Linked DNA regions of Homo sapiens: regions 1, 2, 3, 4 and 5 are each linked to region 6. The links come from fine-mapping of genetic effects on gene expression. A gene starts in region 6. Each other region holds a variant in brackets. All regions are shown on one strand. Distances are between the middles of the regions. Region 1 overlaps PCDH12 (protocadherin 12). Region 2 holds the start of PCDH1 (protocadherin 1). Region 3 overlaps GNPDA1 (glucosamine-6-phosphate deaminase 1). Region 4 has its middle 21 kb from the start of PCDH1. Region 5 holds the start of PCDH12 (protocadherin 12). Region 6 holds the start of DELE1 (DAP3 binding cell death enhancer 1).

Region 1 (5,048 bases), 27 kb before region 6:
GGGAGTCATGTCATGAAAAGGCAGCTGTCACTTGAGCAAAGGGTGGCAGGTATCTTAGGAGGGCTTCTGGGCCTGGGCTGGGAGGTGGGATCTTCCCTGAGGCAGGCAATAAGACCCCGAGTCTCCCAAGTCACAGTGAAACCCCAGTCCTGGCCATCTCCTCTTCCAACTCTCCTCTGAGGTTGACACTTCCTACCTCAAGCTGCACAGAGGGGCATGGTGGACCTCCTAAGGGAGGAATGGGGATGGACCCAGGAGGAGGAAGCAGTGTTTCTAGGAATAACAGTGCAAACTCCTTGCTTTTGCAGAGGATTTTTAACTTTTTCAAACCATTTAATCGTGACAACACTGAGAAGAAGGCGTGTGGGTATTTCTAGCCCCCTATTAGAGATGAGGAAACTGAGGTCTGAGGAGGTCTAAAAACCTGTCTAATGCTATACAATAAGCTACAAATGGCCTTGAACTAGAACTCCGCCTCCCAGGACTTGATCTGTTGCCTCTCCCTTCCAATGGCCTATAGGGTCTGGCCGTGATATCTCACCCATCCCCTACTCCATTCTCCAGTCTTTCTGAAACTCTACCTTCTCTTCCAGCCTTTCAGTGTGCAGTGCTTCTGCCTGAAAACCTCCCCACCCCTTGCCCAGACCTTCATTCTCTTTCCACTTGCCAAACTCCTATGGAGCCTTTGGGTCTCAGCAGAGGTGCCTGGCATGTGGTATGAACTCAGTAACATCTGTTGAAATGAATGAATTAACTTAATCCAGTACCACCCCCCTGCTTCCTCCCTGCTCCAAGTTGGGTTAGGGGCCCTCTGCTCCCACAGAGCCCCCATTCTTTCCCTATGCCCAGAGGCAACCCCTGTGGTAAACACTCTTCGCTGCCCTGATCTCCAGCCAGCCTCCCTGTGGGGCTGCCTGCAACCTTCACATCCTGACAGATGTGACCACGCTGAGGGCAGCAGCTGGGGCTCCTTCTCCTTCTTACTCCCATAGCAACCACCCTGCCTGGCACTTATTAAGTACTTGTTGAATGAATGAAAAGATGAATAAATGAATAATTCAATGACACCATTTTGCCTTCTCTACAACATAGTCTTACATCTGGTCAACAAAAATTGGCCGAATGTCCAAATACTGCTAAAGGGGAACATAACTCTTTAAGATAATCTTCATCAAAGTAACAACAAATTGATGGTCAGGAAATGCCTTTTTCACCCCATCTCTCAGAGTCCACCAGGTGCAGGACACTCGGAGGAATGAGTATGAGGGGACAGGCCCAGAGGGTCCTCTTGCTCTCCTTCAGACACTCAGGTCCTGGGGTGACATGACAGAGCAGGGGACCTGCCCGCCCAGGTCCCTGTCTCTGTCACTGGGCACCATCCCCCATCTGATCACACAAACATCTGAAGCCAGAGGAAAGACTATAAAAAGAAAGCACCGGCATTGAGGGAAACATCCGGCGAGGAAGTGTGCTGAGTCGGAATTGTGTGGAGTCAACAGATTTTTCCTGTCTTGTAGCAAATCTCCCAGCTGCTGTCCTTGCTGCATCAGGGCCAATTCCAGCCCAAACCAAACCACCGAGGAAATAAGTACTTGGCCAAGCCAGGAGGCAGCAGGTAAGCAGCACGTAGCCCCCACAGGCATCTCAAGGCCCCTACTGGCCGCCCCTCATCACTGCAGCCTCTGTGAGTGAGGAAGGGTGAGCACAAGTCAGACACCGGTCCCCTGGGAGGGTGCAGCAGACAGCATCCATCCTCCCACCCTGGGAGTTTTGGTCGTGAGGTGACTGTATTGATAGTATTTACAGGACCTAGAAGTCCTGTAGGACTAACTAGCTGTATTGATAAATACCATCAATACAGTAGTCACCAAGGAAATGACCTCATCCCTGAGACTGTATTTGTCCCAATTACAGAGGTGCTGTAAATTGCCTTTATATCTGTAACTGTCACCTCTCTTTCTCTTGACCCATAAACATAATATGAAGGCTCCCCACTAAAGACATGGCTGTGTGGGCGTGTCCCTTTGGGCAATCCTAGAATTGAAGACACCTTAAGAGAACATCAAATCCAACTTCTTGTTACGGATGGAGAAACTGAGGCTCTGAGTAGCTTGATTCAAACCAGCTATGTAAACTTGAGCAAGTGAGATAATCTCTCAGGACCTTGGTTTCCCCATCTGTAAAACAGAACCCATCCCATTTCCCTTGTGGTAATGGGGTGAGGATTTCATAATCAATTGTATTCTAAGCCCATAGCCCAGCAACTGACACATAGTAGGTGCACACACAATGCTAACTCCTTTCCCCTTGAAGCAATTTTGCTAAAGGTCATGTAACAAGTGAGTGGCAAAGCTGGGACCAGCTCTCAGAGTTCCTGACTCCTGCATCAGTGCTCTTGCCCTGACAACTTACAGCTTCTTTTTACAAGGATGGTGAGAGGTAGTGTACTGCAGGGGTGAGTCCACACACTCCAGGGTCACACTGGCCTGGATTTGAAGTCTTGCTTTATCTCTTAATCTATGGGGACCTTGGGCAACCTGCAAAATCTTCACAAGTCTTGGTTTTCTCATTTGTACAATGGGTTGATTAAAGAGAACCCCTTACAGGTGTGGAAGGTTTGAATAAGACGGTGCATGGACCTTGCATCGCATAAGGCCTGACTCAGACTCACTGCTCAAAAACATTAGTTGTCATTATCACCCACACACTTGCCACCTCCCTGCTCATTTCTTCACAGCAGCAGAAATGGCTACAGGGGAACAAAACCAAACAAACAGAAGGACTCCTACGCCTTAAAACCCCTCAGGTAGCCTTCCCACCTGCTGGGATGAGGGTCCAGGCCTGTCCCCAAGTGTCTATGGGAGAGAGGGACCAGGATGGAGACAGCAGGAGACTGGGGTGCAGGTAGCAGATTCTGAGCAGCTTTAGGCTGCCTCACTCCGGCTGCACCCTCCATAGGTCTGCTCTTCTGGCCTAGGATTTGGCCTAAAGTAGGGAGGAAGGAATGTTCAGTCACTCATTCAGCACCCACTGTGTGCCACGCCCTGTTCTGAGCATCAGTAAGGGAGCAGGCAATGAGACAGGCAAAAATCCCAGCCTTCTCCTACGGACGGA[T/C]GGACGGCTGCACTGGCTCCACTGAGGTTTACTAAACTCCTCCTGTGTGCCAGGCAATACCTAGACATGGGAGGGGCAACGAGAATGATATCAATGAACTCATCTTCACTTCTGTCTGCTGAGTGCTTACAATGTGCCAGGCTCTGTGGTAGGCCCCTCTACCTACAACGTCTCATTTTACCCTCACAACACCCTGTGAGGTGGGTGTTATTTATTACTCTCATTTTACAAATGAGGAAACAGAGTAAGAGGAGGGCGGGAATCACATGATCCAGGTTGGTCTGACTCTAGAGGCCAGGCTGTGTATCCAGTTCCCTATATGGGTAAATGAATGCAAACATGAATGGGCATGAATGAATGAATCTATATGGGAATGTCCCTACCCATGGACTGGTTGGTTTCTTTTGCAGGAGTGCAATCCCAGACACAGATGGCCCAAGTGCAAGGGCTGGAGGCCAGACAGACCCAGAACAGGAGGAAGGGCCTTTGGATCCTGAAGAGGACCTCTCTGTGAAGCAACTGCTAGAAGAAGAGCTGTCAAGTCTGCTGGACCCCAGCACAGGTAGGGACCCCCTGGAGTTACCTTGACCCTGCTTCTGCCCCATGGTGTCCAAGCTTCAGAGTTCTGCTCCAATCCACTGCAGGGAAAAGCCATTCTGTTTCTGTGGAGGAACATCAGCAACATTTAACTTCCCTTGCACCCTTGCAGCCTCAGAAAGTATTTTAAAGACCAGGTTCTACTTTGATTTTTTTTTTTTTTAGACAGGGTCTTGCTCTGTCACCCAGGCTGGAGTACAGTGGCATGATCACAGCATGATCACAGCTCACTGCAGCATTGACCTCCTGGGCTCAGGTGATCCTCCCACCTTAGCCTCCCAAGTAGCTGGGACTACAGGTGAGCACCACCACCACATCCCGCTAATTTTTGATTTTTTTTTTTTTTTGTAGGGACAGGGATTCACCTGTTGCCCAGGCTGGTCTCCAACTCCTGGGCTCAAGCAATCCACCCACCTCAGCCTCCCAAAGTGCTGGCATTAGAGGCATGAGCCACCTGTAATCAAAGCCAAAGTAGGCACCTGGCCTACGTTGATTATTCATTTTAAAAATCATTGTAAAAATAGTGAACATGCCAGGCACTGGGGAAGCATCTTATGTACATGATCTCATTTAAGCCTCCAACCAATCCCCTCAAGTAGATAATTATTACCTCGAATTTACAGATGAGCAAACCGAGGCTCAAAAAAATCAAGTAGCCTTCCCAGAGTCACCCAGCTCACCAGTGATTGAAGGGGAGCCAAACCCTGAGCCAGCCTGTCCTCTATGGACTTCTTACCACTCATTGGCGTTTGGTGTGTTTCAATACCCTTTCACCCTGGGAACCAGGTCAACTCTTTAATATGCTAACAATTGCAATGAAAACAAAAAGATTTTTTTGCAGAGAAATAATTAGCTTTGACAATAAATACATAATGTGAACTTGAATTCAAGAATCTGCTAGCGCCCCCCGCCCCTGCTGTGGACATTGGTCAGCCTCCTTTGGTAACACACCCCACGGCAGACCATCCCTGTGCTGTGGTTTTCTATCTATGTAGTTAACACTGTTTCTCATGTGCTCCATCTGGCTGCAGACACACTGAAGGTATGGCAGGGACTTCTCTTTCCTTGGTTAAAAAATATTGCTAATGTTTATTGGGCACTTTCTATGTGCTAGGCCCTGTTCTAAGTACCTCATGAGAAAATCTTATGAGATAGGGGCTATTCATTATCCCCATTTCATAAAGGAAAAATGTGAGGGTCAGGGGTGTTTCATAATTTGCCCAAGGTTGTGCAGCTCGTGGATGGTTATTAACACAGGCAGTGTGGCTGTAAATTTTAGAGCTGTGTTGTTCAATGAGGTAGTCACTAGCGACAAGTGGCTATTTAAATTTAAGTGA
Region 2 (4,935 bases), 47 kb after region 6:
CCCCATCCTCACTCTAGAGCCCCCGGGTCCCATTAGCCTCCTCCTCCCACGGTCCCCTCCATAGCCCCACCCCCACGGCTTGCTGCGGCCACCGAGGCTGACCGCTCTGCGGCTTCGGCCGGAGGGGGAGGGGTGGACTTTCCCCGAGCGCAGCGGGAAGGGAGGGCCACACAGGGCGATCGGGGATCTGGGCGGGAAGAGGGTGGATATGGAGGAGCAGGTGCCCAGGGAAGAAGGCGCTGTGGGAGACACTTCCCTTGCCTCGACTTCCCAGGGGGCAGACAGAGCTGGGGACAGGTGTTTGAGTAGGGTAAGGAGGGGAATCCAGGAGCGGTCCTAGATGGAGGCTTGGGTGGGATAAGTGTAAGGTGAAGCTCAGAGGAGGGCACGGCCTGTGTACTGGGCCTCGGGCAGTGAAGAGATGGCAGAGGGAGGGGTCCAGGCTTTGGGGAGCGGTGCTCGGGGTCCCCTCCCAGCCGGACCGGAGCGGTCCCGAGCTCCACCTCCCGGCCGGAGGGGGGGCGGGGAGGCGGGCGGGCCGGGAGGGAGGGGGGAGGGAGGGGGCGGGCCGGGCTGTGCGCTCCGCTCTCTGCTGGCTCCGCCGCCGCCGCCGCCGCCGCCGCCGCCGCCGCCGCCGCCTCACACACTCGGGGAGCGGGAGCGCGGCGCGGACGCAAAGCCGCCGGGCTGCTGCGCCCAGAGCCAGCCGGAGCCGGAGCCGGAGCCCGAACTGCAGCTCCAGCCCCAGCCGTGCGGAGCCGCAGCCCAGGCCGGGGCCGGCGGCGGCTCATGGACAGCGGGGCGGGCGGCCGGCGCTGCCCGGAGGCGGGTAAGGATCCGGCGGCGGTGGAGGCAGCAGCGGCTTGGGGCCCGAAGCGGTCATGGCCGGCGGGAGCTGAGGGAGGGGCGCTCGGCGGAGCGAGGCCGCGGGGGCCCAACACGAGCTCGGCGCGAGGGGGCTGAGGTGGGGGCTGCTGGGAGCCCATAGCAGGGGATGCGGCTGAGGGATTCCGTCCTCCCAGGTCCGCGGCGAGAAGCCGAGGGAGGGGAGGGGGTGCTGAGCAGAACCCTAGTCCCCGCGTCCCAAACCTGGGCGCGCTCGGAGAGACGGGGATAAGGAGACTCCAGGAGCGCGCGGCGTGGAGGATGGGTTTGGGGAAGCGCGCGGCCCCCAGTTTGGTGGGGGTCTCCCGGAGGACGGAGCAAGCAAGGACCGTTGTCCACAACACATACATACACACTTGTTGGGCAACTACCTCGGCTCACTCAGCCGCTTCCAGCTTCTCGCGGGCACCCAGAGGGCCAGACCGTGGACATATATACACACATACATACATCCCTGCATATGTGCACACAGACATACCTCCCGCACACCAGCGCCCACTGGGGCACCGTCGCCAGCTCAGAATCCGCTTCAGTGTCTGCACGATCAGCAGCACCGACACACAACCCGTGGCTTTACAGAGCAATAACACAACCGGGTGTGACACCCCGCGACGTGGACACACAAACACAATCTCGTGCCCTCATGTACGAGTGTCACAGCCA[C/T]AGTTCACTAGATGAACCCTCAAAACCTAGCCACCCCCCACATTCCTTTAAGGAACACACCCTAGCATATATCATCTTACCCACTTCTTGGCCAGAACATAGGTACACAGCACAGGTCTCCTTGCACCCCTCTACTGCACCCACACAAACACACAACCCAGTATCTCAGCACACGCTTGATGGCACACACTCTAACACAGGAATTGGCACCTACAGCAGCGCCTCACGGTCACAAACACAGAATCCACTGCTTCACCCATCTTAACACTGGGTGTCACACACACCTTAAACCAACAGTGTCACATTACATTACACCCTGCAGCGCATACACACAAACACACACACTCCGTTCCTCTCTCTCGGAGTCCAGATTCAGGCAGGAGAAGCCGCCGGGGTCGTTCGGCGAGCCCCAAGCGCCCCGCCACGTTAATCGCGACATTATTATTGTAAATATCGGCACAGCGGGAAGGCTGGGCCGGCCTGCCGGCTTCCCAGTCGGCGCCTCCCCAACCCCCACTCCCGGGCCGAACCGGCTGGTGTTCCGGGAACAAGCTGGACCTGGCTGGCCAAGCCATCCCGCCTCCCCGGAGCTCTGGGGCCCCAGGTTCCTTTGTAGAGGGTGCTAGCCTGGGACGGTGATTGCGACCCTCTTCCAGCCATTTAGCTGAGTTTTCTGAGCCACCTGGGTCTCCAGCACACCTGGGTCCCACACACCTTGGTGGGTCCCGCACACCTGGGTTCGTCTCACACCTGAGCGCCCCCTCCGCCTGGTCCCCGCTGTAGGCCAGTGTGTGCGCGGGCAGGCCCTGGAGCCAGAACGGAGATCGCGGCAGGCATAGGAGCAGAATTTGTAGGCGAGGTGGTCTCGCACCCCTTCCCCCCAGCTACCCTCTGTAAGTCAGAATTCTGGCCTCAGTTTCCCCAACAGTGGTCGGCTACTATTTCTTCTGCCAGGAAAGACTGGGGGCGGCACTGAGGCCTTGGAGGATTGAGCGTAGGGCAAAAAACCCCCTCTGCTCGCCACGAGAGGGTCGGTTTTATGAGAATGTCCCCGCCTAGCCGGGTTCGCGGCTTTGTGATTCCGGCGCCGGCTCCCTCCCCGCCCCCTCCTGGCGCCCGCTGCGCCGCTCGCGCCGGCTCCGGCTTGCGGGGGACCCTAGGCCGAGGCCGGAGATGCCGGGGAGGAGGGATTCCCCGCGGTGGCCTGGGTGCGGGGGGCGCAAGGGCTCCCCCCACTAGCCGAAGCGCGTTCTCACCACGCCGCGCCCTAGCCTTGCCTTGGGTTCCTGGAGGCTGGGCGCTGCCGGGGTGGGGGTGGGGCCGCCAGAGCCCAAGAAACTGCCGCCGTCCCCCCCGCCACCCCCTAATCTCCGCAACACACACACACACTCGGCGTCCTCTGGGAGGAGTCGCTCCGCGCGCTGGGTGTGTGCTGGGAGCGCCCGCTGACCAAGGCGGTGCGGACTGGGGCTGCTTGGGTCGCTTCGTGCAGGAAGACGCCGCGAGGCTTCTAGCACCTGCTCTGGGTCAACCCTCGGGAGCTGCCAGGGAAGGGGCCGCCCAGAAAGTTTTTATGACAAGCCGGAGGTCTAGCTGTGTTTGTAGGGGGTGGGGGGCGCGGGAGTAGGTGGGTGTTACTTTATTGACGTTAAGGTCTGGGGGAATTGGAACCTGTAATTACAACTAGACTAGGGCATGGGGTGGAATCGAGGGGAGAGGCAGACTGGCCCCCAGAGGTAGCCAGAGGCAGTGTGATAGGGAGGCAAGTCTGGATTCAGTTCTGGCCGCATTTAGTTTTTACCCCTTCTCCTACCCACCTCCAATTCCCAATTCCAAAAGGGACTTCAGCTGGAAGTGGGTGTCTTGCTGGTCTGCCATCTTCTTAGCAGAGGGGCTGCTGCTGTGGCTACTTCTGCAGGGGAGCTGGGCAAGCGATAGTAAGCTAATTGCTGAGAAGGGGGTTGAAGGGCCAGGAGGGGGCCGCGAGGGTGGGGGAGGAGCTAAGTGGGAATCAGGGTTCGGGGAGGGGTGTAGGGAAAGAAGAAGGTGAGGGCTGCCCCTGCCGTGAGCAAGGATAGTTGGTGCAGAGATTCTGTTCAACAATGTATTGAGCACCTTTTATCTGCCAGGGTCCATGGTGGGTGGTGAGGATGCAGTAGTAAGAGACATACCATCATTGCCTTCATAGGACTTACCAACCAGCGAGGGGATTGGCTTGTTTATTCATCGAACCAAGGAGCACCCACTGTGTGCCCGATGCTGGAAATAAAATGGTCTATTCAGCAATTAGAAGACTTAGAAAAAAAAATGATTTGTCCTTTACATGTAATGTAAATAGACCTTAATGTAATAGACCTTATAGGCATGAGATCTCATTTAATTCTCCCAAATAATTTCAAGAGGCAGGTTTCATTATTTCCATTTCACAGTATGGAAACAGGTTCAGAAAAGTAAATTCACTTGGTTAATGTCACACAGCTAGGAAGTGGTGGAGCGAGGGTTCTAACCCCAACGATCTGACATGCAGGTGCCCAGAAGCCCTGCAGAGGCTAATAGAGGGTTGTGGGAGAGAGGGGAGAGGAGCTGAGGTCTGCACACTTGCTCTCTGTGGGAGGCTTCTGTTCAGCTCCACCCCACGCAACCCCATTTTCTTCCCCTCTCCCCGCGACAGTCCGTTTGTCCCTTGGTGTTTTGTGCCCGCGGCAGTGACCGTTGTGTAACAGTGCTGGGGTGAGGGTGGGGAGTCAGAGCTGACCTGGCTACTGGGACAGTGGTGGCTGCCTCTGTGTGTTTTTTCTCTGGCCACAGCACTCAGCAAAATGGACCTTGGTCCCCGGGGTGGGCTGGAAGTGAAGTTTCCGGGTGAACTCTCACCTCTGTTCTCATCCCTTCCCAGATGTTGACACAGACAGTATTTCCTTCAGCTTTTCTGGGACTCCGTCCCCTCCTTATCCCTTACTCCTACACCCCTGACGGCACTTCTGCTCCTCTATCTGAGGGACATGGGTCCCTGCGCCTGTTCCCCCTCAGGCTCTGGCTTCTCAGGGTCCTGGGTGCCCATGTCACTGGGGGGAGGTAGGGCACCGTTGCCCAGGAAGGCAGCCAGGGCCCGGGGAAGGGCAGATAAGGCGCTGCATGTATCAAAGGCTGCTGTGTGGGATTAATGACTCCCAGTGCCCAACTGCTGGGGACAAAGTTCAGAGATGGTGGGAACACGGGTGAGGGAAGGCCTCCTTATTGCTGCTCCTGCCCTTCCAGGCCACCCTGGCTCTCTTCCTGCATTTCTACGGGCCCCTGGGTGAACAGCAGCAGCCTAGGAAGCCTGGGCTGGTTCATTCCTTGACCCTTAGGCCCACTGTTTCTTATTCCCTCCTTACGGGGCAAGGT
Region 3 (5,048 bases), 75 kb before region 6:
CAACTCCTGAGTGTCCCGCTCTCCTGCTTACCTAGGAGGTGAGTGCCAGGAAAATACACCAAATGCTTCTAGTATTGTTTCCCCACTTAAAATAGTCCTGCTTAAATTCACATGGTGTGGTCTGATGTTCTGAGAGCATCAGGAAATACAACCCTTTTGCCCATTTACCCTTCTCCCCGGATCCCAAGGTGGTCTGTTGCTCTGGCTTCCTTTCATTGTCTTAGGCCTTCATGGAGTGGATGCTGCCTCCTCCTGGCTGTTTTTGTGCCTGTTTGAAGCTACTGCTGCCTCCATTTCTGGGAAAGACCTTTGAGAGCCTAGCCCAGGCCTAAGGGCTATGTTTGGTACCAGTGTTTTGTCTTTAGCTTTTCTATGTGATTGTGCCGTCATTCTGTTTTAAGCTCATGGATCAATGGATTTGTTTACAATGTGATATTTTCTATTAAATCCAGTATTTTCAAATAACATGTCATTTGTGGATTTGAGCCCCCAATTTTAGAAGACTCTCTGGGCTATTTATATATTTTAGAAAGAGCTGGTAAGCAAAGCCTCACATTCAGTCCTCACAAGAGCCTGCAGGAAGGCCACAAGCATAGCAACCATCATCAGAGTGAAAAATAAGATTTTATGAAAATGGAGCACTTACAGGAAAAAGGGTAGGAATGAACAGATGAGCAATAAATTGTCATGTTGGGGCTGTACCTGAGATCCAAACGAGGATACAGCTGTTATAAAGATTAAGGCAGATTTGTGATGAGGGATATTATTGCAAGGTATGCAAAAATACATATAGGTTTTTTTTTTTTTAAAGTTAATATAATGGAATATCTTAGGGCAATATAGCCAATTAAGGAGGTAGATATAGAAGTTAAAAGAAGGGTTTAATTTTTTTAACTATTTTGAGGCTGGGTGCAGTGGCTCATGCCTATAATCCCAGTGCTTTGGGAGGCCAAAGCAGGAGAATCACCTGAGATCAGCAGTTCAAAACCAGCCTGGGCAACATAACAAGACCCTGTCTCTACGAAATTTTTAAAAATTAGCCAAGCATGGTGGTGTATGCCTGTAGTCCCAGCCACTCAGAAGGCTGAGACAAGAGGATTGCTTGAGCCCAGGAGTTCAAGACTGCTGTGAACTATAATCGCATCACTGTACCCCAACTCTGGACAACAGAACAAGACCCCATCTCAAAAAAATATATTTTTTTGATATAAATCCAATGATTTTTATGTTTATAGAATACTGCACTTCCTTACCACAATCCTTTTTTTTTTTTTTTTTTAAAGAGAGAAAGTCTCACCCTGTCTTCCAGGCTGGAGTGCAGTGGCGCGATCTCAGCTCACTGCAACCTCTGCTTCCTGGGTTCAAGTGATTCTCCTGCCTCAGACTGCCCAGTAGCTGGGATTACAGGTGTGCACCACCACACCCACCTAATTTTTGTATTTTTAGTAGAGACAGGGTTTCACCACATTGGCCAGGCTGGTCTCGAATTCCTGGCCTTAAGTGATCTGCCTGCCTTGGCCTCCTAAAGTGCTGGGATTACAGGCATGAGCCACCGCGCCCAGCATCACAATCCATTTCTATCATTCCCAAAAGCTCCCTACTCCTAACCCCAGCCCCAGGCAACTACTGGTCTGCTTTGCGTCTACAGATTTACCTTTTCTGGTCATTTAATATAAATGGAATCATGTGACATGACATCTTTTGTGTCTGGCTTTTTTCACTAAGCATAACATTTTTCAGGTTCATACAACACGTAGCAGCAGTCCATTCCTTTTTATTGCTGTATAGTATTCCGTTTTGTGGACATATATTTTGTTTATCCAGTCAAGAAGGGTTTAAATTTTAAGTATGTTATAGTAACTACATTAAAATGAGACAAAAAAGGACTTAGTGATGACAGCTAAACTGGAGATACCTGTATGAACTTGAGACCTTAGAAAGATCTGATGTCCTTCCTGAGTCTGTGTTTTCCTGGTGGCTCAACAGCAGTGTACTGCTACAACCAGTGCTTATGCGATCAAGTGGGATGTACACCCCTGGGTCATCTTGGGCTTCTAATACCAGGGCTCCTTGTACAGGAGCTAATATGTTTGGGGGTAGGGATCAGAGTAGGCCTGGAATATCTTGTTACTGGAAATAAGGGTGCTTTCAAAAATGTCTGGGGCTGGCCAGGAGCAGTAGCTCACGCCTGTAATCCTAGCACTTTGGGAGGCTGAGGCGGGCGGATCACCTGAGGTCAGGAGTTCAAGACCAGCCTGGCCAACATGGTGAAACCCCATCCCTACTAAAAATACAAAAAATTAGCCAGGTGCAGTGGCGTGCACCTGTAATCCTAGCTACTGGGGAGGCTGAGGCAGGAGAATCGCTTGAACCCAGGAGGCAGAGGTTGCAGTGTGCCAAGATCATGCCACTACACTCCAGCCTGGGCTACAGAGCAAGACGTCGTCTCCAAAAAAAAAGTCTGGGGCTTGTCCCAGGAAGTCTGGGGATGAAAAAAAACAAAACAAAAATGTCTGAGGCAGTTCTGAGAGGACGAAACAGCCAGTTAAATGGGTTCCCACTGAACAGGTTTTCACAATTTGATCAAAAAGGAAATACTAAATACAGCTGACTGGAACAAGTTGAATTTGTAAAACAGCAAGTTTGATAAGAAAAGGAAAATGTAATATTAAGTGCACACAGAGCTGTATTTCAGGAAGAGTAGACAGAATGTGTTTACTTACATTTAGTAAAAAGTGGCAGTGTTGACATCAATGGGTGCCACCTTCCTTCTATTAGTCTGTTTATAAAGTAGAGGTGAACACAAGAGCCTGGCTATTACCCCTATGG[C/A]CTACTCTTCTACTCTTTCCGTCCTTCAGGCCTTGCCTCAAATGTCATTTATCAGATTAACTCTTCCCTGATCCTCCAATATAAAGCTGCAATCCCCAAGTTCCTATCCTTGCCGTGCGCTATTTTCTCAGAACCCTTTACCACTGGACGTGTATTTTGTTTCCCACTAAATGTAAACTCCATGAAGGTAGATGTTAAATACTGCTCTATTCTGCCCCTATAGCAGTGCCTTGATATCTAGAAGGCACTGGTACTTGTTGAACCATAAGCCTGATAGTTGTCCCCATGAGTAGTGATCGTACATAACAATCAGGGGAAATCATGGCATATTACATAATGGATTAGCCAACTGGCCTACTGAGGAGATCTAACTTGGAAAATTTGATGCTTCTTTCCTGGGAACCAAAATCCTTACTGTGATGAGATGCTAATGAAACACGTCCATTTCCGGTAAGATACAGTGTGACAGGATTTAGAGTTATGCAATAATGGGCAGGTAAAACAGAACATAGTACTTTGGACCTCAGGGGAGCCATTACCACCAGCTGGCAGTCATACTACATTAATAATCAGACTAGTCCATTTAGTATCCTCAAAGACTAAATCATAAGGTCCCAAACCTCTAACCCCTCTATCCCAGCTTTCCTTTCAGCTAATGACCTTGAAAACAGAAGCAATCAGAAAAGAATGTCCACGAGTTCCCATCATCACATACCCAGACGTCAGCCCTGCTCTCACACTTGCTGTCTTCCTGTTACCTGCTCCTTGGCCGAGCCCTCTGCTTGCACACCAGATCCCATCCTCTCTTGCCTCCTTGAGGACGTTGCTCTGGCAACACTCCCAACTCTCACCTACAGCATCAAATTGTCCTCTCCTGGACCACTCCTATGGCATTCAAGACAAGATTTAAAAACAAAACTGTACCTCATTTGCCCCCTAAGTACATCCTCATTTTTCTGATCTCCTTTAGAGTAAAGTTTCTAGTTACCCATACTCTGACTTTAATCTCTCACTCTTCTATTCTCTCTTCTCCTTCTGGTATGGTAGTCGCCCCTTCATCCACAGGGCATATGTTCTAAGACCCCCAGTGAATGCCTGAAACCGTGGATAGTACTGAACCTGATAGTTTTTTTTGATACACATATACCTATGATAAAGCTTAATCTATAAACTAGGCGCAGTAAGAAATTTACAAAAATAGAATAATTATAATACACTGTAATAAGTTATGTGAGCATTGTCTCTCTCCCTCTCAAAATCTTATTGTACTGCACTTACCTATTTTTGGACTACAGTTGACCATAGAAAGTGAAACTGTGGATAAGGGGGAACTACCGTATTCCCATTACGCGTAGCTACACTTTGCCTTTTTTTTGGAAACAAGTTCTCTGTTGCCCAGGCTGGAGTGCAGTGGCATGATCTCAGCTCACTGCAATCTCCACCTCCCGGGCTCAAGCGATCCTCCCACCTTAGCCTCCTGAGTAGCTGGGATTACAGGTGTGCACCACCACGCTTGGCTAATTTTTGTATTTTTTTTTTTTTTTTTTTTTTTTTTGTAGACACTGGGTTTTGTCATGTTGCCCAGGCTGGACTCAAACTCCTGGCCTCAAGCAATCGCCTACCTCAGCCTCCCAAAGTGCTGGGATTACAAGTGTAAGACACTACATCCAACCTACACTTTTAAAAATTATCCCACAGTTCTTGGATATTCTGCTGTTTTTAAAAATTTTCCATTCCTTTTTGAAATCTTTCAATTTCAATTTGGGAAGTTTCTATTGACATATCTTCAAGTTCACTGATTCTTTCTGGCTGTGTTCAGTCTTATGAGCCCATCAAAGTCATTCATGTCTGTTTCAGTGTTTTATTTCTAGCTTTTTTTTTTTTTTTTTTGAGACAGAGTTTCGCTCTTGTTGCCCAGGCTGGAGTGCAATGACACGATCTTGTCTCACTGCAACCTCCGCCTCCCGGATTCAAGCTATTCTCCTGCCTCAGCCTCTCGAGTAGCTGGGATTACAGGCATGCACCACCACGCCAGGCTAATTTTGTATTTTTAGTAGAGATGGGGTTTCTCCATGTTGGTCAGGCTGGTCTTGAACTCCCGACCTCAGGTGATCCTCCCGCCTCAGCTTCCTAAAGTGTTGGGATTACAGGCGTGAGCCACTGCACCTGGTCTTTTTTTTTTTTTTTTTTTGCATTTCTTTTTGATTCTAAGTTTCCAT
Region 4 (5,048 bases), 25 kb after region 6:
CCTCTCAAAGATTCCACCATTAAATATTTATCATTTTGGGAGTACTCAGCTAAGAATTAAGACCTCCAGTCAAGGCAACACACCATAAAGTTTTCATCCAACATTTTGGCAGAAGCCCACCTCTACCCAGAAACTTCTTTCTCCTTGACTAGCTGACTCTTACTCATTCTTCAGGTCTGACCCAACCTCCCCTGTTCAGCCCCGACCCCTTACTGTTGAGGGATGGTAAGTTCCCCCATTATCCATGCTCATTACTCTCTGTCATTTTCCTTCCTTGCACTGATTAAACCTGTAATTAAATGATTATTTATGTGATCACATTTATATGGTTTGTGGCCCCATTAGAAAGAGAACTCCAGTTGGTTAGGAGTTGCCTTTCTCTCTGTTCTTCACTATACACCAAGTGCTAGCACAATGCCTGGCACAGAATTGATGTTCAATAAAACTTAAATGGCTGGGCGTAGTGGCTCACGCCTGTAATCCCAGTACTTTGGGAGGCTGAGGCGGGTGGATCACCTGAGGTCAGGAGTTCAAGACCAGCCTGACAAACATGGAGAAACCCTGTCTCTACTAAAAATACAAAATTAGCCGGGCATGGTGGCACATGCCTGTAATCCCAGCTACTAGGGAGGCTGAGGCAGGAGAATCGCTTGAACCTGGGAGGCCTAGGTTGCGGTGAGCCGAGATCACACCATTGCACTCCAGCCTGGGCAACAAGAGCGAAACTCCATCTCAAAAAAAAAAAATTAATTAATTTAAAAAAAATGAAGTTGAATGCTTTGGGGAAAGGACATTAGAGAAGAAGGAAAACAGACAGAAAATGTCAGAACAGATAATTCCAAATCCTTCTGATCTTGGGCCTCTGACTATCACCAGTATGTTCCTTTCTCACCTGCCAGGGTGACACCATGTAACTCTCCTGGGGCATGTTAAGATGCCCAGCAGAGGCCGGGTGCAGTGGCTCAAGCCTGTAATCCCAGGACTTTGGAAGGCTGAGGCAGGTGGATCATTTGAGATCAGGAGTTCGAGACCAGCCTGGTCAACATGGCAAAACCGCCTCTACTAAAAATACAAAAATTAGCCAGGCATGGTGGCATGCACCTGTTGTCCCAGCTACTTGGGAGGCTGAGGCACAAGAATCGCTTGAACCCAGGAGGTGGAGGTTCCAGTGAGCCAACATCATGCCACTGCACTCCAGCCTGGGCAATACAATGAGATTCCATCTCAAAAAAAAAAAAACAAGATGCCCAGTAGAACTACACAGGGACAGCACTAGGATTGAAGCAGACAGAAACTTCTCAGCTGGAGGAAACAGGCCTGAGGGGCATCCTGGCCTGGTCTGGCTCTGCACTTATCCAGAATGTGACTAAGAGTTCATAGTTCTAGACCAAGCTTTGTGTGAGGAACCTTCTATTCCAGATGTTTTCTGGTAATTAAGATGGGAGATGTTTGTTGCCGAGAACATATGGTATTGATAATAATAACAAAAATACTATCAGCTACCATTTATAGAAAGCTTACTATATGCCAGGCACTGGGCTAAGTACTTTATATATAGTTACACATAATTAATTAATCCTCACAACCATCTTGAGAGAAAAATGTACCACTATTTCCATTTTGAGAATAAGTAATTTGCCCAACATCACACAACTGGGAAGCAACTGAGCCAGGACAGGACTCTGAGGCCAAGCTTTGAACCAGCAGGATAGGCTGCCTTCTATTTAAGCCCCGAGGAGATACCAGACCACCTCATACTCACTCAACAGATACAAAGTAGTGCCCTTTAATGGACTTGGGATTTATTTGCAATCTTAGAAGCTGCCACTATTCCCTTGTCTTAGAACCACCAGGATCTGGCTCCTGATTCCTGGAGTCACAGAAGAGAGGTGCCAAAACATCTGGAATTGCAGAAGGAAGCAAATACAGGCAGCTGGGAGGCACCTGATCCTTGGCCTTCTACAGCAAAATACTCCTGAGTCCCTGGCCCTCCTGCTTGGAAGATGGGACCACTTTGAATCTTTTCCCTCTGTATTTCTCTTCTCCCAGTGGTGATCCTGCGGGCTCATTTCTGAATGATGATGGTCTCGAGGCAGGTGACAAGTAAGCCACAAAGGGCCACATAAACCATAACCAGCCAGTGTGAGAGAGAAGCTGCCACTGAAGGTGGGCCCTATTTACTTGGGGCTGCACTCGCGGCCTTGTGTACAGCCACTTGCAGGAAGTGAGAGCTCCAAGCTTTTGACATCAGGTCATGGTGTCTTCTGTTCCCCTCTCTTCCCTGTGGCACTGACTTCAGCTTTGTCCCTTTAATGATTCTGAGTCTGACCTCCATGGCTTCAAATTAAGTCTGGAATCATTTTAAGACTACTATGGGGTGGATACGGTGGCTCATGCCTGTAATCCCAGTACTTTGGGAGGCCGAGGCTGGCAGATCACCTGAGG[T/C]TGGAAGTTCGAGACCAGGCTGACCAACATGGAGAAACCCCGTCTCTACTAAAAATACAAAATTGGCTGGTGTGGTGGCGCGTGCCTGTAATCCCAGCTACTCGGGAGGCAGAGGCAGGAGAATCACTTGAACCTGGGAGGCAGAGGTTGCAGTGAGCCGAAATCACGCCATTGCACTCCAGCCTGAGCAACGAGAGCAAAACTCCACCTCAAAAAGAAAAAAAAAAAATGGTCCCTGACTCGTGCCACTTAAACTCGGTCTGAAACAGATACTTCCTGGCTCATCCTTTCAACCTGCATTTATTGTGGTGTTATCTCTCTAATCTGTGGACTCCTAAAGGGCAGGTTTGTATTGAATATGGTCATTTGGCATGCATCCTCTATTCTTATTTTCTTCTAATGTGTTACAGGGACCGGGAAGCTAGAATACATTTCTATGACTCCCTTACAATTAGGCACACTTGTATGACTGTAAGACAGAAAGGAGGAAGATGACTTCTTTCTGCTATTTTGGGCTTTCTGTTGGCAAGCAGGATCCTGGAGACATGGGGTTCTCCTGCAACAGCCATTCAGCTTCCTGATCTCTGCTTTCTAGTTCCTGGATGGCAGATCTCTGACAATGTGTTCTTTAACTCAACAGTTACAGTGGTGGCCTTTTGATTCCCCATCTTACTAATCATGGCAAACATATTCGCTCTCCTGTTGCAGTTTTGGGAAGTCCATTCCACAACTCCTTTCAATGATTGTGTAAACACTAATTCTCTACACTAAGTTCTCCTCAGTTCAAAATACCTAGAGTAGTTTCTGTTTTCCTGCACTGAACTAGGCCCTCAAATAGTTGTGAAATGACTGACTCCTTGGAGAAACAAAGAAAAAAAAAGTCAGTGTTGTGTTGGAGAGAAAAGATTTATTTTCTCATCCACTTCTAGGTTCATGGCCAAGATTCCAATAATAAAAAACAGATTAAGAAGAGAAAAGTATGCAAATGTATTTAATATAAGGTTTACATGACACAGGAGCCTTCATAAGGAAATGAAGACCCCCCCAAAACAGGAAAACTTGTGTATTTATTTAGGCTTAGGTTTGAGGAAGAGTAGAAGTGGTCACTCATGCAGAAGTATGATAGGACAAAAGGGGTGTGATCTAATGGTAATAAACTGGTGGTAGGGGACTTAGCAAGTCCTGTTCAGATTCTTCTGCCTTCAAGAACAAGGAAGTCCCTTTTCTTCAGTATAGGGAGGGTATCTCTGGAATGAGGATTTCATGACCTACTTCAGGAAAGAAAGGAGGGAGAAGGTCAGAGAGTAACCTTCCCAGGTTTTTTTCTTTTCTTTTTTTTGAGATGGAGTTGCACTCTGTCGCCCAGGCTGGAGTGCAGTGGCGTGATCTCGGCTCACTGCAACCTCTGCCTCCTGGGTTCAAGTGATTCTCCTGCCTCAGCCTCCCAAGTAGCTGGGATTACGGGTGCCCACCACCATGCCCGGCTACTTTTTTTTTTTTTGTATTTTTAGTAGAGACGGGGTTTCACCATGTTGGCCAAGCTGGTCTTGAACTCCCGACCTCAGGTGATCCACCAGCTTCAGCCTCCCAAAGCGCTGGGATTACAGGCATGAGCCACTGCGCCCGGCCAACCTTCCCAGGTTTTATGGCCTGCTTCCGGGAAGAAGGGAGAGGGAAAGGTGAGAGTGGTTCTCCTCTGCTGTTTTTTCAAATGCCAAGTTGCCATATTTTGGAGTACGGTATCCTGAACCCCATCATTCTCCTGTCTGAAACTTTCCCAAGAGGCCTCACAGCCCAAAAACTGAGTTGGAAGATTATTGCATAACCCATTGAACCATCTCTCAGTTCCAGGAATAACTCAGTCCAGTTAAATAGTTAACAGTTGTATCTTATTCCAGTTGTTAGGGGGTATTGCAGTCAGGCTTCTACCAAAGTTAGGCCTCTATGTAGTGTAATCAATCAGGCATTTAATAAGAGGCATTTCCAGACAAACAATAGAAAAACAAACATTAACAATTAGAGCAATCCATAAACTCAGTTTTTGAGTCCGGAAGACAGCCAGTCAAAAAAATTTCTAGATTCGAGCTCAAAGCATCTTGAGATGGTAGAATGAGGACAAGTAGTGACAAGCTGATAGATTTTCCTGGTTTGCAGTTTGCATGAGGTGTTCTGGGGAACTTTCTGAGTAGCACATAGAGCAACACGTACAAAAATTGTTCATATATGGCTGTTGTGATTTCTCTAAAGTCTATATGAAGTTGTCCAGCTTTAGCTTGCAGGGCTTTGGAAAAAGGGCAGTTTTAATTTTTAGTGATTCTCAGTCATAAGGTGGGAGAAAAATTGGAAATTGTTTGGAGAGTGATAACCAGATATTGGAGGAAACTAGAAGAATTTAAGATCCAGTCCAGATTATAGGTAGATAACAAAACCTCAGGGCCGGGTGAGGTAGCTCACGCCTGTAATCCCAGCACTTTGGGAGGCCGAGGCGGCTGGATCACGAGGTCAGGAGATCAAGACCATCCTGGCTAACACGGTGAAACCCCGTCTCTACTAAAAAATACAAAAAATTAGCCAGGCATGGTGGCGGGCACCTGTAGTCCCAG
Region 5 (5,048 bases), 32 kb before region 6:
GATGAGGTAATGGAGGCCCAGGAAAGTTAAGTGACTTGTCCCAGATGACACCGCTGGTAAGTTGCAAAGTCAGAATTTGAACTCAGGCAGTTTACCTCTGATGGCTGCTCTGTTAATCACAGCTGCTTTCCAGTGAGACAAAAACGGGTGATCAGGGCAGAGTCAAGACAGAGAGGTAAACAAGATTGGGAAAAAGACAGGAATGAGAGGGGAACAATGGGGGAAAAGATAGGAACAAAGAGAGTTGGGGAAGGGGAGAGAAACAGGAAACATGACTTGCCCGGGAGGGGCATCAGTCCACGTGCAAGCAGGTGGAGGCTCAAGTTTTCTGCTCACTTGGTGATGCAGAGGCTCCCTTTCCCTCAGCAGCCGCCTTGCTGCGTGGACAGCAGCTTCCCATCTGGCCTGTCCCCGGAGCCCCGGCCTCATCCTCCTCAGCGGCAGGCCACTTAGCTTCACAGGAAATGCTCTTTCTCTAATTGGCATTGAAACTCACAGCCCTCCCTTTTCCTGTAGGTGGGGTTTCCATAGGAAAAAGCTGCTTCTCTGTTTCCCCAGCCTAGCAACTGTTTGGCAGTCAGAGTCCCACATCCTGCTCAACTGGGTCAGGTCCCTCTTAGACCAGCTCTTGTCCATCATTTGCTGAAGTGGACCAACTAGTTCCCCAGTAGGGGGTCTCCCCTGGCAATTCTTGATCGGCGTTTGGACATCTCAGATCGCTTCCAATGAAGATGGCCTTGCCTTGGGGTCCTGCTTGTTTCATAATCATCTAACTATGGGACAAGGTTGTGCCGGCAGCTCTGGGGGAAGGAGCACGGGGCTGATCAAGCCATCCAGGAAACACTGGAGGACTTGTCCAGCCTTGAAAGAACTCTAGTGGTTTCTGAATCTAGCCCACTTGGCGGTAAGCATGATGCAACTTCTGCAACTTCTGCTGGGGCTTTTGGGGCCAGGTGGCTACTTATTTCTTTTAGGGGATTGTCAGGAGGTGACCACTCTCACGGTGAAATACCAAGTGTCAGAGGAAGTGCCATCTGGTACAGTGATCGGGAAGCTGTCCCAGGAACTGGGCCGGGAGGAGAGGCGGAGGCAAGCTGGGGCTGCCTTCCAGGTGTTGCAGCTGCCTCAGGCGCTCCCCATTCAGGTGGACTCTGAGGAAGGCTTGCTCAGCACAGGCAGGCGGCTGGATCGAGAGCAGCTGTGCCGACAGTGGGATCCCTGCCTGGTTTCCTTTGATGTGCTTGCCACAGGGGATTTGGCTCTGATCCATGTGGAGATCCAAGTGCTGGACATCAATGACCACCAGCCACGGTTTCCCAAAGGCGAGCAGGAGCTGGAAATCTCTGAGAGCGCCTCTCTGCGAACCCGGATCCCCCTGGACAGAGCTCTTGACCCAGACACAGGCCCTAACACCCTGCACACCTACACTCTGTCTCCCAGTGAGCACTTTGCCTTGGATGTCATTGTGGGCCCTGATGAGACCAAACATGCAGAACTCATAGTGGTGAAGGAGCTGGACAGGGAAATCCATTCATTTTTTGATCTGGTGTTAACTGCCTATGACAATGGGAACCCCCCCAAGTCAGGTACCAGCTTGGTCAAGGTCAACGTCTTGGACTCCAATGACAATAGCCCTGCGTTTGCTGAGAGTTCACTGGCACTGGAAATCCAAGAAGATGCTGCACCTGGTACGCTTCTCATAAAACTGACCGCCACAGACCCTGACCAAGGCCCCAATGGGGAGGTGGAGTTCTTCCTCAGTAAGCACATGCCTCCAGAGGTGCTGGACACCTTCAGTATTGATGCCAAGACAGGCCAGGTCATTCTGCGTCGACCTCTAGACTATGAAAAGAACCCTGCCTACGAGGTGGATGTTCAGGCAAGGGACCTGGGTCCCAATCCTATCCCAGCCCATTGCAAAGTTCTCATCAAGGTTCTGGATGTCAATGACAACATCCCAAGCATCCACGTCACATGGGCCTCCCAGCCATCACTGGTGTCAGAAGCTCTTCCCAAGGACAGTTTTATTGCTCTTGTCATGGCAGATGACTTGGATTCAGGACACAATGGTTTGGTCCACTGCTGGCTGAGCCAAGAGCTGGGCCACTTCAGGCTGAAAAGAACTAATGGCAACACATACATGTTGCTAACCAATGCCACACTGGACAGAGAGCAGTGGCCCAAATATACCCTCACTCTGTTAGCCCAAGACCAAGGACTCCAGCCCTTATCAGCCAAGAAACAGCTCAGCATTCAGATCAGTGACATCAACGACAATGCACCTGTGTTTGAGAAAAGCAGGTATGAAGTCTCCACGCGGGAAAACAACTTACCCTCTCTTCACCTCATTACCATCAAGGCTCATGATGCAGACTTGGGCATTAATGGAAAAGTCTCATACCGCATCCAGGACTCCCCAGTTGCTCACTTAGTAGCTATTGACTCCAACACAGGAGAGGTCACTGCTCAGAGGTCACTGAACTATGAAGAGATGGCCGGCTTTGAGTTCCAGGTGATCGCAGAGGACAGCGGGCAACCCATGCTTGCATCCAGTGTCTCTGTGTGGGTCAGCCTCTTGGATGCCAATGATAATGCCCCAGAGGTGGTCCAGCCTGTGCTCAGCGATGGAAAAGCCAGCCTCTCCGTGCTTGTGAATGCCTCCACAGGCCACCTGCTGGTGCCCATCGAGACTCCCAATGGCTTGGGCCCAGCGGGCACTGACACACCTCCACTGGCCACTCACAGCTCCCGGCCATTCCTTTTGACAACCATTGTGGCAAGAGATGCAGACTCGGGGGCAAATGGAGAGCCCCTCTACAGCATCCGCA[G/A]TGGAAATGAAGCCCACCTCTTCATCCTCAACCCTCATACGGGGCAGCTGTTCGTCAATGTCACCAATGCCAGCAGCCTCATTGGGAGTGAGTGGGAGCTGGAGATAGTAGTAGAGGACCAGGGAAGCCCCCCCTTACAGACCCGAGCCCTGTTGAGGGTCATGTTTGTCACCAGTGTGGACCACCTGAGGGACTCAGCCCGCAAGCCTGGGGCCTTGAGCATGTCGATGCTGACGGTGATCTGCCTGGCTGTACTGTTGGGCATCTTCGGGTTGATCCTGGCTTTGTTCATGTCCATCTGCCGGACAGAAAAGAAGGACAACAGGGCCTACAACTGTCGGGAGGCCGAGTCCACCTACCGCCAGCAGCCCAAGAGGCCCCAGAAACACATTCAGAAGGCAGACATCCACCTCGTGCCTGTGCTCAGGGGTCAGGCAGGTGAGCCTTGTGAAGTCGGGCAGTCCCACAAAGATGTGGACAAGGAGGCGATGATGGAAGCAGGCTGGGACCCCTGCCTGCAGGCCCCCTTCCACCTCACCCCGACCCTGTACAGGACGCTGCGTAATCAAGGCAACCAGGGAGCACCGGCGGAGAGCCGAGAGGTGCTGCAAGACACGGTCAACCTCCTTTTCAACCATCCCAGGCAGAGGAATGCCTCCCGGGAGAACCTGAACCTTCCCGAGCCCCAGCCTGCCACAGGCCAGCCACGTTCCAGGCCTCTGAAGGTTGCAGGCAGCCCCACAGGGAGGCTGGCTGGAGACCAGGGCAGTGAGGAAGCCCCACAGAGGCCACCAGCCTCCTCTGCAACCCTGAGACGGCAGCGACATCTCAATGGCAAAGTGTCCCCTGAGAAAGAATCAGGGCCCCGTCAGATCCTGCGGAGCCTGGTCCGGCTGTCTGTGGCTGCCTTCGCCGAGCGGAACCCCGTGGAGGAGCTCACTGTGGATTCTCCTCCTGTTCAGGTACCTGGGGCATGGGCAGCTCTTTCTCTGGTCACTCCTGGACCACCAGAAACAGAATCAGACACCCCCATAACCTGCACAGTCCTCATGTTTCTTCCTTAGGCTCACCTGGCACTTTCTGATGCTTTGGGTAGCAATGGTTCAGGGCACAGCTTTGTGATCGGCTGAACTTAGCTGTGTGATCCTAGGCAAATTCCTTACTGTCTCTGGGCCTTAGTTGTCTTATCTGTAAATTAGAGATGATAGTAAGAGTATCTACCTTGTAGAGTTGTCCAGAGGATTTGATCAATTAATTCCTATAAGGCATTTATGGTGCCTCACAAGTAGACACACAGCAAAGGTAGTGATTAAGAGTATAAGCTTTGGGCAAGGTTACCTGGGTTCAAATCCTGGCTCCACTTCTTCCTAGCTCTGAACCACAGAGGAAGTTAACATCTCTGTTGAAGATGTCTATGTTAACACCACCCATCTTCTAAGTTTGCTTGAAAATAAAATGAGTGAATGCTCTTAATGCCTGTAGAACAGTGTCCATCTGACATGTAGTCAGTACTCAGCAAATTATTACTATTACTTCCTCAAAGCACTTCTCCATCTCCACTATTTGCCTGCCTTCATCTCATCTGGGCAACTTCCCTATGAAGAAGGCCAGCATAGGCATCATTGCACCCAAACCCAGGTGTTGCAAATAATTTGTCTGAGACCCCAGAGCTTTCCGGCTGGGCCTGCGGATGGGGCAGTGGAAATTACCTTAGAACTTAGCAGTTAGGCAGATTGGAGTTCAGATTTCAACACAGCCACTTAGGAGCTGGGCAACCTTGTACACGTCCTTCAACATCTGAGCCTCATTTTCCTCATCTATAAAATGGGGATTATGAGACCAAACTTACCCTGTGTCTGCCTCCTTAGAGTGTGAGGGCTAAATGGGATGATGAGTGTCAAAATGTCTAAGGACCTGGGATTTTCTAGACACAAGTGGGGAAACCTTTCCAGGGATGATGCCTGATCTCACACCCATATCTGCTTCTGTGAACCTCAGATATTTTCACTGTGCCAGGCTGCCCGCCCAAGGCACACTTCTGTTTGGCCAGGCTATCAGCTCAGGTTTCCTGTGAAGCAAAACACAGTTTCCTTCCCTATTCCCTCCTCAGGAAGCCACCTGGAGATGGCCCAGCTGTTCTCTTAGGAATCTTGCCCTGGGATCGGTGCAGACCCAGAGGCTGCCAGAGCCAACCATTCATTTATCCTTCCATTCATCCAT
Region 6 (5,048 bases):
TTGCCTGAAAAGCGAAGACTCTGCCCTATGAGACCTAGTGTTCACTAGTAAGAATCTGACCTTATAGATCAGGTTCAACAAATATTTTTGAGCAACTATTACGGGCTAGGCTCTGTATTTGATGCAGCAACCAAGCAGTAGAACATGAACTCCAGAGTTAAATCTGGCTCCTCCACTTAACAGGTATGAGACCCTACGCATGTTACCTAATATTTCAGAGCCTGAGATTCCTCAGCTGTAAAATGAAGGTGATATTTCCCTTGTAAGATTTTTGTAAGGATTACACAAGATAATGCATGTATAATACTTTACATTAATAAATAATGCTATAAGGCCGGGCGCGGTGGCTCACAGCTGTAATCCCAGCACTTTGGGAGGCCGCGGTGGGTGGGTCACGAGATCAGGAGTTCGAGACCATCCTGGCCAAAATGGTGAAACCCCGTCTCTACTAAAAACACAAAAATTATCCAGGCGTGGTGGCACGTGCCTGTAATCCCAGCTACTTGGGAGGCTGAAGCAGGAGAATTGCTTGAACCCGGGAGACGGAGGTTGCAGTGAGCCAAGATCATGCCGCTGCACTTCAGCCTGGGCGACAGAGAAAGACTCTGTCTCAGAAAAAAATAATAATTTAAAAATAAAAAAAATGAATAATAAAAAAAAGATGCAATGTATTATTATTTATTGTAAGATCCATGAAGGCAAGAATGTATCTATCTTGTTCTCTGCTATGTCCGTAGTGACTAGCAAAAATGCCTGGCCCAGACAAGGTGTTACATAAATGTTTACTGAATTAAATGAGGAAAACATACATGGCGGGGGTGTGGAAAGTGGCAATATCTCCTTGAATATGCTCCAATACCATGGGTTACTTGTTAAATGGACACAGTGATTCCCTAGCCCTTGTTCCAGGTTCGGCTGTATACCCATGAAGGATCATTCTCATCTACACTGAAGGTCAAGGACCAGGCTGGGGAAGCCTTACCCAAGATATGGCATCCCATAGGGTGTTCGGGGAGACACGGGAAGACATCCATTGGAAGGCATCCTTCCATCCATGGGACCTTGGACCCCCGCTCGTGCCTGGGCCATGGGGACCTGACCTAGATGATGAAATAAGAGGCTATCAAGTAGGGGCAAAGGGAGACCAGGGACTGGGTGCGGTGGCTCACACCTGTAATCCCAACAATTTGGGAGGCTGAGGTGGGTGGATCACGAGGTCAGGAGTTCAAGACCAGCCTGGTCAAGATGGTGAAACCCCATCTCTACTAAAAATATAAAAATTGGCTGGGTACAGTGGCTCACACTGTAATCCCAGCACTTTGGGAGGCTGAGGCGGGCAGATCATGAGATCAGGAGATCAAGACCATCCTGGCTAACATGGTGAAACCCCGTCTCTACTAAAAATACAAAAAAAATTAGCCAGGCGTGATGGTGCATGCCTGAAATCCCAGCTACTTGGGAGGCTGAGGCAGCAGAATCGCTTGAACCCAGGAGGCGGAGGTTTCAGTGAGCCAAGATCGCGCCACTGCACTCCAGCCTGGGCGACAGAGCGAGACTCTGTCTCAAAAAAAATAAAATAAAATAAAAATTAGCAGGGTGTGGTGACGGGTGCCTGTAATCCCAGCTACTCGGGAGGCTGAGGCAGAGAACTGCTTGAACCTGGGAGGCGGAGGTTGCAGTGAGCTGAGATTGCCCCACTGCACTCCAGCCTGGGCGACAGAATGAGACTCCATCTCAAAAAACAACAAAAAAAAAAAAATAAAAAAAAAGGGTGACTAGGGGAGGAAATGAGTGGTAAAATGGCAGTATCTTACCTGTCGAGGTTAGGCACAGGAACCAGCAAAGTGGAGGAGGTAGTCTGAGGCCCATCTGGGCTGGTGGACTTAGGAGTCACCCTCCAGAGGCTAGGTCCCAGTGTACGGGGAAGAGCTGTACAGAACAACCAAAACTCAGGCACCTCAACAAGAACCCAGGAATCACTGTCATCTGCCTCAGCAGAGGTTCTTAAACATGGATACACATGGGAATCTTTTATCTACTACAGATTCTAGGGTAGTACCCCAGAACCAATAAACTAAGATTTCTCAGGGTAGAGCATCCACGTTTTTTAAAAGCGCCCATGTGATTCTGCTGGTCTCCTGTGGATGCCAACCACTGTTCTAAGATGACCAAACGTTCATACATATACTCTCACTAATGTTTGGGGCTCTTTGACTCTAAACCTCTCCTCTCTTCACTGGCTATGCCTACTCCATTGGCCCCTAATCCTCTTTCATTCATTCAGTCCACCATCTCCTGCCATTGGACTCCTCCCCCTCCCAACAGTCCTACCAACTTCTTGGACTCCACCCTCTTCTAGCTAGGCCCATCCACATCTCAAATTCCAGCAGCCCCTGACTTCCCCGCCCTCTTTCAAGCCCCGCCTTCCTTGGCTCTAACCCGGCCCACGATCGCTTCGGCTGTTTCCTCGGGCCCGCCCCCACTCCAGTTCGGTCTTTGCGGCCCAGAGTGACGCTGGTTGCTTGGACGTCCCTTACCTCGGCCCAGGAGTCCCGGGAGGCGCCACATGTCGCTGCCAGCACCACAGAGAGCTCGCAGCCGAAAGCGCGAGACCAACCCTTGGGACAGCGGCTAGAAAGGCCGCCGCGATGCCCCGAGTGGCCGAGTACCCGAGGAAGCTCTGAGCTGGCCAATTAGAAGGGAGCCCGGCCGGAAAGACGGCGCTGCAGAGAGGAAGTGCAGGGCGGAGGCGTATTCGGGGCCAGCGGGGCGGTGACGTGCGGCAAGGGCATGGGGATGTGGGCCCAGGCTTCCGTGGGGGATGTCCTTGGCGTTCCCAAGCCGAGGCAGGGGACCGCAGGTGGCGAAGCGAGCCACCCGGAAGCGGGACCTTCGGGAAGTGGGGCTGGAGCGGCTTCAGGGAAGTAAGAGGACCTTGCAGACCGTGAGGCCGCGAACCAGGAAAGGCTTCTCCAGGCCCTAGGCTTGAGGAAGTGGGAGTAACCAGGCTCCATGGGCGGAGGAGAGGACCCCCGGGGTCCCACAAATGAAGCCAGTAGGCCGGGCTTCCGTCCAAGGCCACCTGCCTGGAGATGCCAGGCCAGGGCCCGACTGCGTAGGCGATGAGAAACCGCACAGGGCAAGGCTTTGATTCTGGGTTCTAGCTCCGGTCCAGCTTTATCTCACTGTGCAGCTTCATGCCAACCCCTTACCTTGTCGGGGCCCCAATACGCGCCAGATAGGGTCAAATGGAATGACTGGCCTGACAAGCTGAGATTCTTGGGTAGCTCCTTTCAAAATACCTGAGACACCACCCGCGCCCTATTAGAACCCTCGTCTTCAGACGTGGCAAAAGTTATGTATGTGTTTGTTCTTTTGTGGAAAAGAATAGTTCCGTCTGGTCCCGGTGGCTCACGCCTGTAATCCCAGCACTCTGGGAGGCCGAGGCGGGCGGATCACCTGAGGTCAGGAGTTTGAGACCAGCCTGGCCAACATGGTGAAACCCTGTCTCTACTAAAAATACAAAAATCAGTTGCGCGTGGTGGTGGGCGCCTGTAATCCTAGCTACTCTGGAGGCTGAGGCAGGAGAATTGCTTGAACACGGGAGACGGGAGGTTGCAGTGAGCCGAGATCGCGCCTGGGCGACAGAGTGAGACTCCATCTCAAAAAAAAAAGGAAAAAAAAATAGTTCCTTTCACCACATTTGAATCCGTGAAATAACGGAGCTTACATTCAAGTATAAGATGTTTAGATTTCCTCCCTATCCCCTTCCTCCAGGTATGTGACTTTAAGGTGAGTGGAAGTTGCTACCTGGGGTAAAAGTGTACTGGGGGCACCTACTTTTAGACCGAGGCATGTGGCTTGAAAGTTGTATTAATATGTTAGACAACTTTTTTTTTTCTTTTGAGACGGATTCTCTGTCGCCCAGGCTGGAGTGCAATGGTGTGATCTCGGCTCACTGCAACCTCTGCCTCCCAGGTTCAAGCGATTCTCTTGCCTCAGCCTCCCAAGTAGCTGAGATTACAGGCGCCTGCTACCACATCCTGCTAATTTTTGTATTTTTAGTAGAGACAGGGTTTCACCATGTTGGCCAGGTTGGTCTCGAACTCCTGGACCTCAGGTGATCCTCCTGCCTTGGCCTTCCAAAGTGCTGGGATTACAGGCTTGAGCCACCGTGCCTGGCCGTTAAAGAACTTTTGAGCCATATATCAGCCCGTTCTAGGATCTGAGAAGACAGCTGAGGAAAGAGCATTTGTGGCCTCCAGGAACACGGTCCAGTGGATTAGTAGTGGGCTTTGGAGTCCCACAAATCTGGGTTGGAATCACAGCTTGCTTACTTCGTAGGTATGTTATCTTGTGCAGGTTCCTTAACCACACTAAGTCTCAAGAGCTTCATCCGTAAAATAGGGAAAATACCTCATGCAATTGTTGTGAGGTTTAAATAAAATAATATGTTAAAAATGTTTAACTTGGTGTTTTGGGAATACCCTTCAAAAAATAAAAAATAAATAAATAAAAATGTTTAGCATAGTTCCTGGCACATAGTAAAAGCCCAGTAAGTGTAAGTTGCTATTAATTATATTAGTAGGGGAGGTAAGCAGGCAAGTGTAATAGGTTAGGTTCCCATAGAAGCATGAACAATGGATTGTGGGATCCCTTGGAAGGCTTCAGAAAAGTAGTTGCATTTGAGCGGGGCCTTTAAATGTGAATAAGAGCTTGCCAGGTGGAGAAGGAAGAAAGGCATTGCAAGCGGAGGAAACAATAAATAAAGGCCCAGAAGTTTGAATGTTGGACAACTATTCAGAAATAGCCTTGCTTCGGGATTTGGGACGGCAACCTTTCACATTCCTTGTGTTGCTGTCCCGAAAATAAAGTAACAAACAAGTATGCTGGTTTGGCTGTGTTCTTCCTCCTGCGTCTTTTGTACCCTCCTTCCTTTCAGACTATCCATAGTTTGTGTCATTTCTCAAGGTTCAGCCCAATCCCAGCTCTTCAGTGTAGACTCCTCAACTGTTTGAGCCCTCCCTGCTCCCTACTTTTCCCAATTC

What was found. PIP is the estimated chance that this variant, and not a neighbour inherited with it, causes the effect.
Region 1: its variant is fine-mapped to the expression of DELE1 in whole blood (TOPMed, PIP above 0.99).
Region 2: its variant is fine-mapped to the expression of DELE1 in whole blood (INTERVAL, PIP above 0.99). The same link has a PIP of 0.9 or more in lung.
Region 3: its variant is fine-mapped to the expression of DELE1 in whole blood (TOPMed, PIP above 0.99).
Region 4: its variant is fine-mapped to the expression of DELE1 in whole blood (TOPMed, PIP above 0.99).
Region 5: its variant is fine-mapped to the expression of DELE1 in whole blood (TOPMed, PIP above 0.99).

Annotation. Positions count from the first base shown.
Region 1 is chr5:141,948,060-141,953,107 of GRCh38, reverse strand. It overlaps PCDH12 (protocadherin 12), which reads left to right. Exons shown (of 4, transcript NM_016580.4): 2 at 1,518-1,615; 3 at 3,525-3,676. It also overlaps a transcript of RNF14 not described here. Among named protein-coding and RNA genes, the nearest start is that of PCDH12, 7.6 kb to the left of the region's middle. The variant T/C (reference allele first, on the strand shown) is at 3,115.
Region 2 is chr5:141,874,117-141,879,051 of GRCh38, reverse strand. PCDH1 (protocadherin 1) reads left to right here and starts at 642. Exons shown (of 5, transcript NM_032420.5): 1 at 642-829. The coding sequence starts at 790. RefSeq lists enhancers at 644-1,393, 1,660-2,344. The variant C/T (reference allele first, on the strand shown) is at 1,549.
Region 3 is chr5:141,996,088-142,001,135 of GRCh38, reverse strand. It overlaps GNPDA1 (glucosamine-6-phosphate deaminase 1), which reads left to right. Exons shown (of 7, transcript NM_005471.5): 7 at 1-465. Among named protein-coding and RNA genes, the nearest start is that of GNPDA1, 14 kb to the left of the region's middle. The variant C/A (reference allele first, on the strand shown) is at 2,830.
Region 4 is chr5:141,896,826-141,901,873 of GRCh38, reverse strand. No RefSeq gene overlaps it. Among named protein-coding and RNA genes, the nearest start is that of PCDH1, 21 kb to the right of the region's middle. The variant T/C (reference allele first, on the strand shown) is at 2,446.
Region 5 is chr5:141,953,714-141,958,761 of GRCh38, reverse strand. PCDH12 (protocadherin 12) reads left to right here and starts at 560. Exons shown (of 4, transcript NM_016580.4): 1 at 560-3,790. The coding sequence starts at 911. It also overlaps a transcript of RNF14 not described here. RefSeq lists enhancers at 1-793, 794-1,700. The variant G/A (reference allele first, on the strand shown) is at 2,829.
Region 6 is chr5:141,921,462-141,926,509 of GRCh38, reverse strand. It overlaps DELE1 (DAP3 binding cell death enhancer 1), which reads right to left and starts at 2,639. Exons shown (of 12, transcript NM_014773.5): 1 at 2,538-2,639; 2 at 1,815-1,929; 3 at 983-1,100. The coding sequence starts at 2,568. RefSeq lists an enhancer at 2,245-2,758.